2 linked regions of the Homo sapiens genome follow. The protein of the gene in region 1 purifies or fractionates together with the protein of each later gene. This does not show direct contact. Each region holds a gene or a part of one and is shown in the gene's direction. Other genes may lie near its edges. The genes, in order: WFDC9 and CTSC.

Region 1 (7,604 bases):
TCTCTTAATGCAGATATACGTTAGAGATCAAGTTTGGATCCAACTGCCACAATAAAGAGAATCACACATATTTTTGGTTTCCTGCTGCATATAAAAGTTATGTTTACACTACACCATAATCTATTAAGTGTGCAATAGTATTATATGTTAAAAACAGTGTATATAATTAAAAGTATTTTACTGCTAAAAATGCTAGTGATCATCTGACCTTCAGTTAGTCATAATTGTTTTGCTGGTAGAGAGTCTTGCCTCAATGTTGATGGCTGCTGACTGACCAGGGTGGTGGTTACTAAAGTGGCTATGGAAATTTCTTAAAATAAGACAACAATAAAGTTTGCTGCATCAGTTGACTATTTCTTTCATGAAAGATTTCTCTGTAGCATGTGATGTTGTTTGAATTTCTTTCCACGGAAGAATTTCCTTGAAAATTGGAGTCAATCTTCTCAAATCCCGCTACTGCTTTATCATAAGTTTATGTAACATTTTAAATCCTTTGTTGTCATTTCAACAGTCTAATGATACAACTTTCATGGATGAAGAGTTGCTATTTTTTTTTTTTAAGAGACAGGGTCTTGTCTTAACACCCAGGCTAGAGTGCAGTGGCAAGGATCATAGCTCACTGCAGCCTCAAACTCCTGGGTTCAAGTGATCCTCCTGCCCCAGCCTCCCAAGTAGCAAAAATGTTTTCAGCATCCTTACCAGGAGAAGTTTCTAATTCAAGAAGCCACTTTCATTGCTCATCCATAAGAAGCAACTCCTTGACTGGGTGCCATGGCTTATGCCTATAATAATCTCAGCACTTCGGGAGGCCGAGGTAGGAGGGGATCACTTGAGGCCAGGAACTTGAGATCAGCCTGGGGAACTTAGCTAGACCTTGTCTTTCCAAAAAAAAAAAAAAAAAAAAAAAAAAAAAAAAAAAAAGCCAAGGGCAGTAGTGCATGCCTGTAGTTCTAGCTACCAGGGAAGCTGAGGTGGGAGCATAGCTCAAGCCAAGGAGTTCAAGACTGCAGTGAGCTCTGATCATGCCACTGTACTCCAGCCTGGGCAACTGAGTAAGATCCTATCTCTTAAAAAAAAAAGAAGTAACCCTTCATCCATTCAAGTTTTATCATGAGATTCCAGCAATTCAATCACATTTTCAGGCTCAACTTCTAACTCTAGTTCTCTTGCTATTTCTATCACATCTGCAGTGGGCTCCTCTATGAAGTCTTGAAACTCTCAAAGTCAGCCATGAGAGTTGGAATCAATTTCTTCCAAACTCCTGTTAGTGATGATATTTTCACCTCCTCCTGTCGATCATGAATGTTCTTAATGGCATCTAGAATGGTGAATCATTTCCAGAAGGTTTTCAATTTATTTTGCCCAGATCCATCAGAAGAATCACTATCTATGTCACCTATAGCCTTATAAGATGTATTTCTTAAACAATGAGACTTGAAAGTCAAGATCACTTCTTGAGCCATGGGCTGTAGAATGTATATTGTGTTAGCAGGCATGAAAACAATATTAATCTCCTTGTACATCTCCATTGGAGCTCTTGGGTGACCAGGCACGTTGTCAATGGGAGTAGTATTTTGAATGAGTATTTTTTATTTGAGCAGTAGGTGTCTAGGTGTCAAAAGTAGACTCAAAATGTGTCTAGGTGTGAAAAGTAGACTCAAAATATTCAGTGAACCATGCTGTAAATAGATGTGCTATCATCAAGATGGTGTCTTATTTATAGGCATAGTAGATTTAGCAGAATTCTGAAGGGACTTGGAATTTTCAGAATGGTAAATGATCATCATTACCTTTAACTTAAAGTCACCAGCTGCATTAGCCCCTAACAAGAGAGTCAGCCTATCCTTTCAAGTTTCGAAGCCAGGCATTGACTTTTGCTCTCTAGTTATGAAAGTCTTAGATGGCATCTTCTTCCTACAGAAGGCTTATTTTTCCACACTGAAGATCTATTGTTTAATTTAGACATCTTCATCACTTTGCAAGATCTTCTGGGTAACTTGCTGCAACTTCTACCTTAGCACTTGCTGCTTCACTTTGCACTTTTATATTACGGAGATGGCTTCTTTCTTTAAACCTCATGAAATAATTTCTGCTAACTTCCAACTTTTCTTCTGCAGCTTTCTCACCTCTTTCAGCCTTCATAATATTGGAGGGAGCTAGAGCCTTTCTCTGGTTAGGTTTTTGGCTTAAGGGAATGTGGTGGCTAGTTTGATCTTCTGCCCAGACCACTAAAATTTTCTCCATATCAGCAATAAGGTTGTTTTGCTTTCTTATCATCCATGTGTTCACTAGAGTAGCACTTTTAATTTCCCTCAACAACTTTTCCTTTGCATTCATATCTTGGCTAACTGGCACAAGAGGCCTAGCTTTTGGCATATCTTTGCTGTTGACATGCCTTCCTAACTGTAATCATTTCCAGCTTTTCATTTAAAGTGAGAGACATAGAACCCTTCCTATCACTTGAACACGTAGAGACCATTGTGGAGTTATTAATTGGCCTAATTTTAATATTGTTATGTCTCAGGAAATAGAGAGGCCTGAGGAGAGGGAGAGAGATGGGGAAATGGCCAGTTGTTGGAGCAGTCAGAACACACACACAACATTTATCCATTAATCATTTTTTAGGGGCGCAGTTCATAGTGTCCCAAAACAATTACAACAGTAATAACCAAGATTATGGATGACAGATCATCACAACAGATATGATAATAAAACAAGTTTGAAATTTTTTTTTTGAGATGGAGTTTCGCTCTTGTTGCCCAGGCTGCAGTGCTATGGCAAGATCTCAGCTCACTGCAACCTTCACCTCCCAGGTTCAAGCGATTCTCTTGCCTCAGTCTCCCAAGTAACTGGGATTACAGGCATGCGCCACCACACTCAGCTAATTTTGTATTTTTATTAAAGACGGAGTTTCACCATGTTGGTCAGGCTGGTCTCGAACTCCTGACCTCAGGTGATTCACCTGCCTTGGCCTCCCGAGTGCTGAGATTGCAGGCATGAGCCACTGCGCCTAGCAAGTTTGAAATATTTTGAGAATTACCAAAATGTGACACAGAGACATGAAGTAAGCACATGCTGTTAGAAAAATGGTGCCAGATGACTTGCTCGATGCAGAGTTGCCACAAACCTTCAATTTGTATGAAACGCTATAGCTGTGAAGTGCAATAGAGCAAGGCTCAATAAAACAAGATATGCCTGTAGTGTCTAGTAGGCATGTTTGGGGGTGGCTTGAGAGGATGCTTGGTAAGGGAGGCTATCCAAGGAAACACCAAATAAGGTCTCTTGGAGATCATGCCCTTACAGCCCACAGAGTACATCTGATGGTGTCTGTGTTGATGGTTGATCATGATCTCTTTCCTAAGACCTCCTTGTCCAAGGGAAGCTCTTGAGAAAGGTGAAGACAAGCCTGAGATACCCAGAGCCCGGTGATGCCTCAGAGGTGGCTCACAGCCTCTGGTCTGATGAAGGAAGTTTTCTTCTCTGATGTCTCTTTCATTGAATGGCCCAGCAAGAAGCACTAGACTGGAGCATAACACTGCACACCTGCCTCTGGGCATGGCCTATCCTCCTGAAACCTCTTCACATTTGGCTTCATGTCCCAGTTAGCTACATGTGACCCAACCCTGGATCTAGCCCCAGGATCATTTCAGAGGAGTTGCGATTGCAGAGTGGGAGATTCTGTACCACACTGATTAATTTCCACCAACTCACAGTAGGATGACAGGGAAGACCCATAGCCACTCTGTGCCAATTACTCCTTAGCAACAGCAGCATGAACCACCTGTTCCACATCCCTTAGTGTTCCTCTTGATCTAAAGAAAAGAGAATGAACCAGCCCCTAAGGAAGAGGGCTTGGGAAAGATAAGGACTATTCAGTTAATGGAAGGTGCTGGAGTGTCAGATCCTGAGGCCCAAAATGGGTCCCATCAGAGGAGTAGCCATATTGGTGGGTGCTGGATAGGAGGAGCTTTGGGGTTGGTGCAGGCACTCACTCTCACTAGGATGCCTCTGGTCTCAGGTAATGGAGAGAAGTGAGGAAAAAGTGATCCTAGAGGAAACACCCTCTTCCAGTCACATCATATCCTCTCACTCTCTTGTGGCCTTGGGCTTGCTGGACTTCCTGGGACTCATTATCCTAATGATAGACAGTAATCTGAACCTTACAGAGAGATTGGGGAGCATAGGATGGCGGTGCACCAAGGCTAAGGAGACCAAAGCAGTGCTTGGGGGCCTCCCACTCTTTATCTCGGGTTCTAACTGCCACCCATCTCATGCTTAATGGGTCCTTCTGACTCCAGGGTGAGAAATGTTCTCCTTAGCATCAGGAGATGCTGCACATGAGCAGTTCCTCCCCCTGGGAGTACTGGTTCAGTGAGCAAAACAGCAAGGGGCTGGGCATCCTGAGGGCTGGCAGGGATACGTGGGCCAAAGAGGGAGAGGGAGGGTAGAGAAGCATAGCCAGGGAGAGAAATTGAACACCAGGACGCAAGACAAGTGGGGCATCTGTAGGGGCCACAGTGAGCTCTCAATGATCATCTGTAGTGGCAGCAAAAGAGGTAGGATCCCTGGGCATTTGTTCTGGTTTATTTGACAGGGACAAGGGGTTCAGACAGTAGAGAGGGCGGCATTCCTGTTGATGTTCTTATGCTGGTGACTTGAGGTCCTTGTGCTTCGGATGTGGGCACAGTCTTGGATAGAGGAGTTGGGAAGCAGGATGCACATCCCAGCCCACTCTCCCACTCACAGGATGCTCATGCAAACATTCCCACAGTAGGTAGAACAGCATATGTTATTTGCTTGACAATCTCGGTGAGATTCACATAAGTGTTTGCATAGATATAGTTTAGGCTGCTGCTGGCAGACTTTGATTTCTGGGGATAGCTGTGTTTCTGACAAGGAGAATAGAACGGTAAATAAACGCAGTTTCCTAGAGAACATTTTTCTCAAGCTGAAGCCTCCTCCAAGACCCTTGAACCCAGGTCTCAGTCATGATACTCCTGGATTCCTTCTTCATAGAACTACCTTCCTGCCCATCACCAAATCCTAGTGATTGGTCATATTTTAAATCCTGTCTCTCCACTGTACACCTTACCCCATTAGACCACAATGCCTGGGCTTCCTGGACCTTCTCCACACACCAGCAATCAGAACTCCATCTCCCTTACTAGTCATGGCCTTGGTGAAGTCACCACCAAAGAATCTACAGTCTGATCCTGAGAGCTCAAAGAAGCATGAGACATCTTTCAAACTCTCTCCTAGTCTCTGAATAGTAGAATTCAGAGATGAGGATCAACATGCCTCTTGTCTCTCCCTCTCTTCTGCTCACTGTCACTGTCTCTAGTCTTCCTGCCCCTTCTTTAGTTCCCTTTCCACCACCACTCTCCTTGCCCCTTTGATGATAACCTTAACTTGGCTCTGTGTACCCCAACTTTTGCTTGTCTTATGTCCTATTTCCCTACACTTATACCCATTCTACACCTACACCTACCGTCATAACCACTTCTGAATCTTTACTCCTCACAAATGTGCATAAATCAAATAATAATTGTCTTGCTTTCCCCACTGGATTCTCAGCCCTGGTGCGCCTTTCACTATGGGATGTGCCATTTCTCTCTAAGTATTGAGAAGGAACAGCAAAATATGCAGGTTTCTTCTTCATTCCCATTACTATTCCCAGGGCCAGCTAAGGGGCTGGAGGGCCATGGTTTAGGGACAGTCCAGAGTCTACACAACATTGTGGTCAGAGCTGGATATGCAGAGAGTTTCCAACTCCTAGGTCCTACTCAGACTGGACACAGGCCCTCCATTCCCCCTACCCAATTCCCCCTCACCCATCCAGCAGCCCATCACCTACTCTGCATCCTCTTCTTGTCACGGTATCCTCCCTGGGCCTGCAGCAGCAGCACACAGAGAACCAGGACAGGCAGCAGAGTCTGGGGTGCCATGACTCTGATCAGATCGTGAGCCCTATGTCTGGCCAGGTTGTCACAGACTTCCCTGCAGAGCTGTCTACGGAGAGTGAAGGAAGGAAAGAAGGAATGATCTTTAGCTCCTCACTGCCTCTACTGGCCAAGTCGGAGCAGAGCAAGAGAGTCCTTCCTCTTTTTGCTTGCCCCTGGCCTTGTCGTTCGTCATGTGGGATAGGGCTTCCGCAGGAATGACGCCTCCTCCTTTCACATAACCAGTCTTGTGTTCTTGCCGATAGAATGAAAGATATCATTTATTTCTGCTTTCTAATTACAAAATGTTTTATGGAAAAAAGAAAAGAAAAAATATATTGTTAAAAAGAGTTGCTTAGAATTAACTGATGTTTCATTGCATTATCTTTTAGTTTCTCTCCATATTTAATATAAACAATCCTTTTAATATAAACAACTTTTGTTATCTATTTTTGCCACCCTTATTTAATCATGTAAGTATTTCTCAAAATGTGGATTTTCATAATTGCACAGCTCTCAAATGCTAATAATCAAGTATTTGTATTGTACTAATTACTAATAATCTAGAGAATGTCATATTATTTTTATTTATAAATCTTTGATTTCTTTAGACTAAGAGAGCTAGAATTCCTGAGTGAAAGAGTAAGTAGCTGTTTCATATATAAATGTATATAAACACATACACAGATATACATATACAAATTTAAACACACATAAACACACAGAAAGAGAGACTATTGTAGGGCATGGGACAGAAGGGCTAGTGGAGAAACATAGTAAATATCTTAGAGCTCAGACAGGGGGAGAGACCTATCAGTCAAAGGCTTGGCAGGCTGTCCAGGAGGAGGTGGTCACTGACCTTGAATATCATGAAGGAAATGAACTCTCAGAAGTGAAGATGTTTCTTCTTCCCTAACAGGAGAAAGAGGGGACAACCTAGGGTCACTGGACTCCCAGTAGGCATGCAAGCTGGGAAGAAGATCACCCTCTTCCTCTGATGATGATAATCTTCTAAAGATTTGAACCTCTTTCTGACATTCTGAACTCCTAATGCAGACTCCTTCAGTCCACAGTTGTAATTTACATTCAAAGGAAGCTCTCTAGCCTTTCCCCCATATCTCACCTTATGCACCTTCCTCTGTATCCTTTGCGATATCCTTTATAATTCAAAAATTCTGATATTTGTACCTATAGTTTACAGAGTGGTATTTGACCCTTCCCAAAGGCTCTCTCTTTCCTAGTTTTTCTTTTTGTCCACTCATAAATGAACAATTTAGAGACTGGACACTGTCATAACTATCCTAGCAAAGAGGGGTTATATAGAGGAGAATCATCATCTCAAATAGAAGCTGCATTTTCCTTACCCAAGCATCTTGCAGCCAGTGCCACAATGTAAATATTTTGGCTAACAGACTTGTCACTACTAGGTCAAGACCCTAAGAAGATGGCAAGTCTCTTTCACACTCTTTTTCTTTTCCACCAGCTCAGTATAGATGACAACAAGGTTCTAGAGCCTAGTGAAGCCAAAAGGTGAAAGGAGCCTGGGTCCTTGACTTCTTTTATCACATGAAAAAAGGATACCCATTGTTTTAGAATACTCATTTTGAATTATTATTTGAGCAAGAAATAAAAAGTATATTGTATTTCAGTTATTATGTGATGGAG
Region 2 (7,636 bases), on another chromosome or scaffold:
TAATCCTCTAATATCTGTAGAGTTCATGGCTCAAATTTGTATTATTTGAATAAACTACTAATAGATTAATAATTACTCAACTAAAACACTTTGAAATGTGAGAGTTCCCTTATCTCCCTCGCAGGCATATGACAGAGGTGTGGCTTCTCACACCTTTGGTTGCCCTTGCCCTACCACCCAAACCCCTAGGGGGAGCATGCAGAGGGGCAGGTGCAGAGGCCATGGGGGGTGCTTTTGGGCTCTGGCCCCACAGCAGTGTCTAGGAGTGGATGTTGGAGACTCCTGAAGCCCAAGTGGGCATGTGTTACAGTGTGCTCTTTCAGCTTAGCCGTCTGCAGATGGCTTGTGTTAATCAGGTCATTAGACCCCATGCCTTATTGCAAGGGCAGGGGTCCAATGTGACAGCCTAAGTTCTTGCTCAGTGTACCAGAAGAATTGGATCACACGTGGGCTGGAAGGATGAGCACAAGGTTTTATTGAGTGGTGGAGGTGGCTCTCCGCGAGACGACTCTCAGCCAGAGAAGGAGGATGGAGGGGAAAGGTGTTCTTCCCCTGGAGTCCACTTGTTCCTGTTCTCCTCTGGGTTCAAATACCTCTTCCCTCCTTTTCTGCTGTGCTGTCCCACCACTCTCCACAGCTCTGTGCCGCTCTGTTCCTCTGCTCCTCTGGATGTTCAGCTCCTTGTATCTGTGCCTGCTAAGATTTTGGGTTTATATGGGGGAAGGATGGGGGGCATGGCGGGCCAAAAGGCACCTTTTTTGGTGTGAAAACAGAAATGCCTGTCTTCTCTTAGGGCCTTAGGTCTTCAGGCTTGAGGGTGGGGCCTTTGCTGAGGGACCACCCTCTTCTACCCAGTATTTCCCTGTCTCCTGTCCATATCAACATTACTAACTTTTTCATCTGCAGACTAATAATGCTAAGGTGTGGCATTTTTCAACTGTGAGACTATGTGAAGGTTTTTCCTGTCCAACTGATGGCATCCTCCCATAATTCTACCCCTTTCTTAAAAGAATCTTTTGCAGTATTTCTCCAAGTTTATTCTAGAGAATTTCTTGTCTGTGAAATGCTCTAGTTAATCAAAATTGGAAAACGGAGCATATCATATCCCCTTCTCAAATTCACCAAAGTGAAGTCCTAATGTGTCTTAATGTATCTGCATGAGACAGGAAGCTGAGATCTATTCAACAACAAAAATCCAAACAAGCATCAAGAGGAGGAGTGTTAGCACTTGAGCCTAGGGAGACTGTGGCTCCTGCCTGAAAGATGGGAGCCTCAGTCACAGCTGCTTTACCAAGTGTCATATGCTATGTTTCTGAGGACTCCTGCTAAAGCTCCCTTCTCCCTCCAGCCAACCACTTTTGTTTTAGACAAGGGCTGGGTTTATGAAGGACTGTTTTCATGACTAAAGCTTTATAGAAGGTTTAAGATAAGGAGATGGAATTGAGTGAAGTAGGAAATATGAAAGCAGATATTATAATCTGGCTTCCTGATTTTTCACTAGCATTTTTGTTTATAAATTAGTTCTGTTCTAAGAATCCAATGACGTAATAGAAACTCTCAAAGATTCTTAACTTGAGATATAGGGAGTCTTTGAAACTGCTGAAATTACAGACAGCATTTATTGTTTATGAGCATTTCTGAATCTAGAGCTTTCACTAGATTTGTAAAGAATGTGGGCCAAAAGATTAAGAGCCAATCCTGTATCTTGTACTCAAAATGTTTGTAATTCTCACCTTTTTATCCCCCAGACTCCTCTTGCTCTCTCTTCATTTTCACAGTGTTACTGGAAAGGGGTCCTGATCCAGACCCCAAGAGAGGGCTCTTGGATCTTGTGCAAGAAAGAATTTAGGGCGAGTCCTCAATGCAAAGTGAAAGCAAGTTTATTAAGAAAGTAAAGGAATAAAAGAATGGCTACTCCATAGACAGAGCAGCCCTGAGGGCAGCTGGTTGTCCATTTTTATGGTTATTTCTTGATTGTATGCTAAACAAGGGATGGATTATTCATGCCTCCCCTTTTTAGACCATAGAGGGTAACTTCCTGACATTGTCATGGCATTCTTTTTTTTTTTTGACAGAGTCTCACTGTGTTGTCCAGGCTGGAGTGCGGTAAAGCAATCTTGGCTCACTGCAACCTCTGCCTCCTGGGTTTAAATGATTCTCCTGCCTCAGCCTCCCAAGTAGCTGGGATTACAGGCATGACCCACCATGCCCAGCCAATTTTTGTATTTTTAGTTGAAACAGGGTTTTGCCATGTTGGCCAGGCTGGTCTTGAACTCCTGACTTCAGGTGATCTGCCTACCTTGGCCTCCCAAAGTGCTGCAATTACAGATGTGAGCCACCAAACCTGGCCTGTCATGGCATTCTTAAACTGTCATGGTGCTGGTGGGAGTGTAGCAGTGAGGAAGACCAGAGGTCACTCTCATCGCCATCTTGGTTTTGGTGGGTTTTAGCTGGCTTCTTTACTGCAGCCTGTCTGTTCTATCAGCAAGGTCTTTATGACCTGAATCTTGTGCTGACCTCCTATCTCATTCTATGACTTAGAATGCCTTAACTGTCTGGGAATGCAGCCCAGTAGGTCTCAGCCTCATCTTACCCAGCTCCTATTCAAGATGGAGTTGCTCTGGGTCAAACACCTTTGACAACATCATTAAGCCTCAGTTCTCACACTGTTTTTGTTTTGTTTGTGTGTGCAATGATGGGCAAATCTCTGCCTTATAGGATGGTAGAAAAAAGGAACTTAATATTGTAATGACTGTTTTGTGCCAGATAATTGCTTTAAACTGTATCAGCATCTTATTTAGTCCTGTTAATGATATGAATGTTATCTTCATAACAGCTGCCATTTTATTAAGGACTTATCAGAGAAAAACACTGTTCTAAGCACTTGTTACCCATTATTACATTGAATTTTCATAACAACCCTTTGAGGTAAGCATGATTATACCCACTTTAATAGAAGTGAACTGTAGTTTTGTAATGTTAGGTTCCTTGCCAAATGTTACACAGATAGTAAGTGATAAAATCATATGCCCTGAAATTACATTATGCTGCCAAACTTAAATTTCTTTTTTATCCTTTATATTAGTATATTCTTAGGTTTAAACAAGACAACTAGTTAACACATACTAGATTTTGTCCACAGTTCCTGGCTCATAACTCCCATAGCCCTTGTCACTATCTTTTAACGTTGGGGCACATTAGGCCTCAGAAGTAGGCCTCAGAAAACAGAGTCTCTCTCTCTCTCTCTCTCTGATCTTCTTCCGCCCTCCTCTCACCTGCCCAGGGCAGCACTCTAATCTTCTCCTGCCTTTCTGATCTTGGGTCATAAGACCTTCATTTCCAAAGATGTCCTGTGTCATACCCTAAAGGAAGGAACACTGAACAGAGAGAGGCTCAGAAGAATCTGGACAGGCCTTGCTGTGTTTACATCATTCCCTTTATGTCCAGTCACATCTCTACATGGTTGTCAGTTGTGCCTATTTGATGAAGTCCCCATATAAGGCTCACAAGGACAGGGTGCAGAGAGCTTCCAGATAGCTGAACAAGTGGAAGTTCCTGGAGGGTGGCGTGTTCAGGGAGGGCATGGAAGCTGTGTGCCCCTTCCCCCATACCTTGCCCTACTCATTTCTTCATCTGTTTCATTTGTAGTATCTTTTATAATAAACCACTAAACATTAGTTAGTATTTCTCTGAGTTCTGTGAGTCACTCTAGCAAATTAATTGAACCCAAGGAGGGTGTCATAGGATCCCCACATTATAGCTGGTTGGCCAGAAGCACAGGTAAACAACCTAGGGCTTTCAATTGGCATGAGAAGTAGGGGGCAGTTTTGTGGGACGGAGCCCTCAGCCTGTGAGATCTGATGCCATCTCTAAGTACACAGTGTCAAAACTGGATTGGAGGACACCCAGCTAGTATTCACTGTGAAATTGGTTGCTTGCTTGATTTGTGGGGAAAAACCCACATGCATTTGATCACAGAAGTCTTTTGTGTTGACAGTTGATAGTGTTCAGTGAGAGAATTAAAAAAAAATTGAGTTTCTTCTTCAACATACTCTCTCAATGTGAAACCACAGAAACTATTTCCATTCAAAGATGGAAATGGTTTGTTTGCATCTTAGTTTTTATTTATACATCTTAGAAGAAATGTCCAAGCTTTGTTTTTTCTCTCACCCTATATATAAAATTACCTATGAGGCACAGATTTTTATGATCCTTGATTATATAGACTTTGTCCAAATTGTGTGTTTTATAGCATTACTGTAACTTGTTATAGTAATCTTTGTGTATATTATGTCTCTTAACATTGTCTTCCATATTGTTAATGACCATCTCATATTTATCTCTGTATCATGTATATCTTCAACCAATGTGACTGGCTTAGGAGAAAAAATTAGTGAACAATTAACTAGTGTTTGTGTAATCTATACAATTGTCAAGGTTACAATTGCTATTTTTGAAGAAATCGTTGTTGTTTTTCTCTTTGTTTCATCTCAGTTCCATTTTGTCATGTATTCTTTTTTTTTTTTTTTTTTTTTTTTTTGAGGCGGAGTCTTGCTCTGTCACCCGGGCTGGAGTGCAGTGGTGCAATCTCGGCTCACTGCAAGCTCCACCTCCTGGGTTCATGCCATTCTCCTGCCTCAGCCTCCCGAGTAGCTGGGACTACAGGCACCCGCCACCACGCCCAGCTAATTTTTTTTTGTATTTTTAGTAGGGACGGGGTTTCACTGTGTTAGCCAGGATGGTCTCAATCTCCTGACCTCGTGATCCGCCCGCCTCGGCCTCCCAATGCTGGGATTACAGGCGTGAGCCACCGCGCCTGGCCCCTTGTCATGTATTCTTAACCTGTGTTATATCTAAGAGAAGCTGTGAGAGACGGGACCATTTGTGGATAGGTGCAGAGGGCATGAAGTAGCCCAGAAAGAATCTTTGCCATTGACTAAATTTTAGCCTAGTAAAAAACATCTGGTAACCACTGAAAAACTAGAACAGTGTGATATGACAATGCCCAGTTGAATAAGAAATTCAAATAGTTTATAGTAACAAAAAATAATTTTTACCACATTGTGACTAGTGCCCTAAAAACAAATTTGAAGGAGCAGAGAGAGAGAGGAAGTGAGTTTTCGCTGGGGGCTGGTGAGTGGAGGCTACTTTATGAGCAGTTTTGAAAATTACAAGTTAGGGAAAAACTCTTAGGGGAGTTTTAAGTGGTGAGCAACAGGCACTTGAGGTTACAGGAGCAGCAGCATAAAGATATAGAACAGAGAGGCCATTTGGCAGTCTTGGGGAAACTCCAAGAAGTCGAATGTGTCTAAAGCTGTGGTTCTCTCTCTGTGTGTGTGTGTGTGTGTGTGTGTGCGCGCGTGTGTTTGTGTGTGTGTGCATGTGTATGTATGTGTGAAATCGCTAATACAGAGAAGCTGTTAGAACAATTTTCTCACTTCCCAAAAATGTCCGTTCATTCATGGGCCTAGGCAACTCTCCTTTGTGTGTCTTACAGCCCAACACTGTCATATAAGGTGTGGTTCTATAATGAAACAGTTTTATCTGTTGTTTACGGAGCTAGTCAGCCTGTGTTATGCTTGTTACTGGTTGAGGGTGTCCAGGTTCTTGGCTTCTTGAACAAAGAATTGGACAAAACTCACAAATGAGGCAAGGAAAGAATGAAGCAACAAAAGCGGAGATTTATTGAAAATGAAAGCACACTCCACAGGATGGGAGTGGGCCTAAGTAAATGATTCAAGGCCCTGGTTACAGAATTTTCTGGGGTTTCAATACCGTCTAGAGGTTTCCCATTGGTTACCTGGTGTATGCCTTATGTAAATGAAGAGGGTGGAGTTAAGTTACAAAGTCATTTACTCAGTATAGGCCTTGTGTTAATGGAGAGGGTGTTACTCCTGGGGGTTGTGGCCCATGTAAACGGAGAGGATGAAGTGAAGTGACAAAGCCCTTCGCATTCCTGCCATTGCTGAAGTGTTTCCACTTTATTTAGTTCTAGGAAGTCAGTGTGAATTGGCCTTATGTTCCCTGCCTCCAGAACCTGTTCTCCTGCCTCACATAGACCCTTTTTTCCCTTTGCCAACTTCACTTCTTTTACAGCCACCTCACTACCAATGTGTCTGTCTCCTAAGTCAAACATCAGTGATTCCTCTGTTTTCTCTAAACCCTTCTTATGTCTTCTACTTCTCATCTCTTTCTTGGTCAAAAATCTTTCAAAAATGAGTAAGAATGCAGCTATTCAGGCAAACTAAAAATAACATCACAGTGATATACAAAACCAGTGTCATTTCACAAAGGAAAATTATCAATACTAGATCCTGAAAAAGAAACAGCGAATGAAAGCCATTTACACAACTCCATTGTGTAATTGACACATTGAATCACTCATAAAACAGGTGCTCTGGGTCTGAATCTAGATCCTAGCTAGTCTGGTAGCTGAAATCATAGAATTATAGTAGAGTTTAGGAAATCATCCTCAAAGGAAAGATTATATGTTGATATCAAATGTATATTTCCTTTCTAGGCCCAAACCTGCACCACTGACTGCTGAAATACAGCAAAAGATTTTGCATTTGCCAACATCTTGGGACTGGAGAAATGTTCATGGTATCAATTTTGTCAGTCCTGTTCGAAACCAAGGTAAAAAAATAAGCCTAAGTTTTTTGTTAATTTGTTTGGAACTATTTATTGAACAGTTGCTCTGTGTGATGGATTTCGGGGATACCTAGATGGAATGGGCATGATCCCCTTTTTACAGAAATAGAAAATAGGTGGCCTATGAATTATTCTTTCCTTTTATATCCATGACAAACTTTAGTAAAAAATTTTCTTTTCTACTGAGCTTAGCATTTATTCAGTACTCTTCTCAATATATTTTCCAGGTAGCTAGTGACAATCAGAGTGATATGTAAGACAAACTCATTTGTCCTCCTAGTAGGAAAGATTCTAGTAGAAGCAAAGAATTGTGTACCATTCTGCAAGTGGTTTGTTGGAATCTTTCTTTGATACCTGTTCCTGTATTCCCCCACCCCCATTAATTTAGTCATTAATTACTACATGAACCCGTAAAATAAATCCTTAAATTATTTTCCTGGTAGATTTTTTGAGCTGTGTAAGGACCTTTCAATTCACTTTACATTAGAATACGATATGTGATGGTAAGTATTAACCCAGCTTCCTGAGTGATGGCGTGAGGGCGGAACCCAGGTTCATGAAAAGTATTCCTATTATTGAATTTTACCAGTTATTTTCAGAAGTTTGATACAATGTGAGTTGATTTCATAACATGTCCTCTAACTGCACTTGATAGCAAATTATCTTGTTATCCTGAGTTGTAGCCAACAATGACTTGGAGAATCTATGCAATACTCAGTTTTATTACTTCTAAGCTCATTTTGAAGATAATACTACCCATGGCTGATTTGTTACTATAAAATAGGTTTAGTATTTGCTGTCTGGAAACATTCTGATTAGTGTCTCCTGGGAGGATTATAAATTTATAGTACCCAAAGATAAACTGTTGTTTCCCTTTCCTAAACTTTTAGTGATAATCAGTCTCTGCCGTGTCTCATTTTCATCACTTGCCCTCCAAGCTCCCATCTCACTGAATTCTTGCAGTGTTCTGAATGTTGAGAGCCCC

The links.
Region 2: the proteins of WFDC9 (region 1) and CTSC purify together in Homo sapiens (affinity purification with mass spectrometry; 2 studies listed by BioGRID and IntAct, with this or other methods). This does not show direct contact.

Annotation. Positions count from the first base shown.
Region 1 is NC_000020.11:45,628,155-45,635,758, reverse strand, and holds the start of WFDC9 (protein WFDC9 precursor), read left to right. Parts: upstream 1-4,474; 5' UTR 4,475-4,556; intron 4,557-4,562; exon of another isoform or gene 4,563-4,740; coding exon of another isoform or gene 4,741-4,889; intron 4,890-5,854; coding exon of another isoform or gene 5,855-5,945; exon of another isoform or gene 5,946-6,020; intron 6,021-7,604. Other genes in the region: WFDC10A (WAP four-disulfide core domain protein 10A precursor), read right to left, coding at 4,741-4,889, 5,855-5,945.
Region 2 is NC_000011.10:88,299,530-88,307,165, reverse strand, and holds part of CTSC (dipeptidyl peptidase 1 isoform a preproprotein), read left to right. Parts: intron 1-6,520; coding exon 6,521-6,636; intron 6,637-7,636. UniProt on the Homo sapiens protein: Thiol protease. Has dipeptidylpeptidase activity. Active against a broad range of dipeptide substrates composed of both polar and hydrophobic amino acids. Proline cannot occupy the P1 position and arginine cannot occupy the P2 position of the substrate.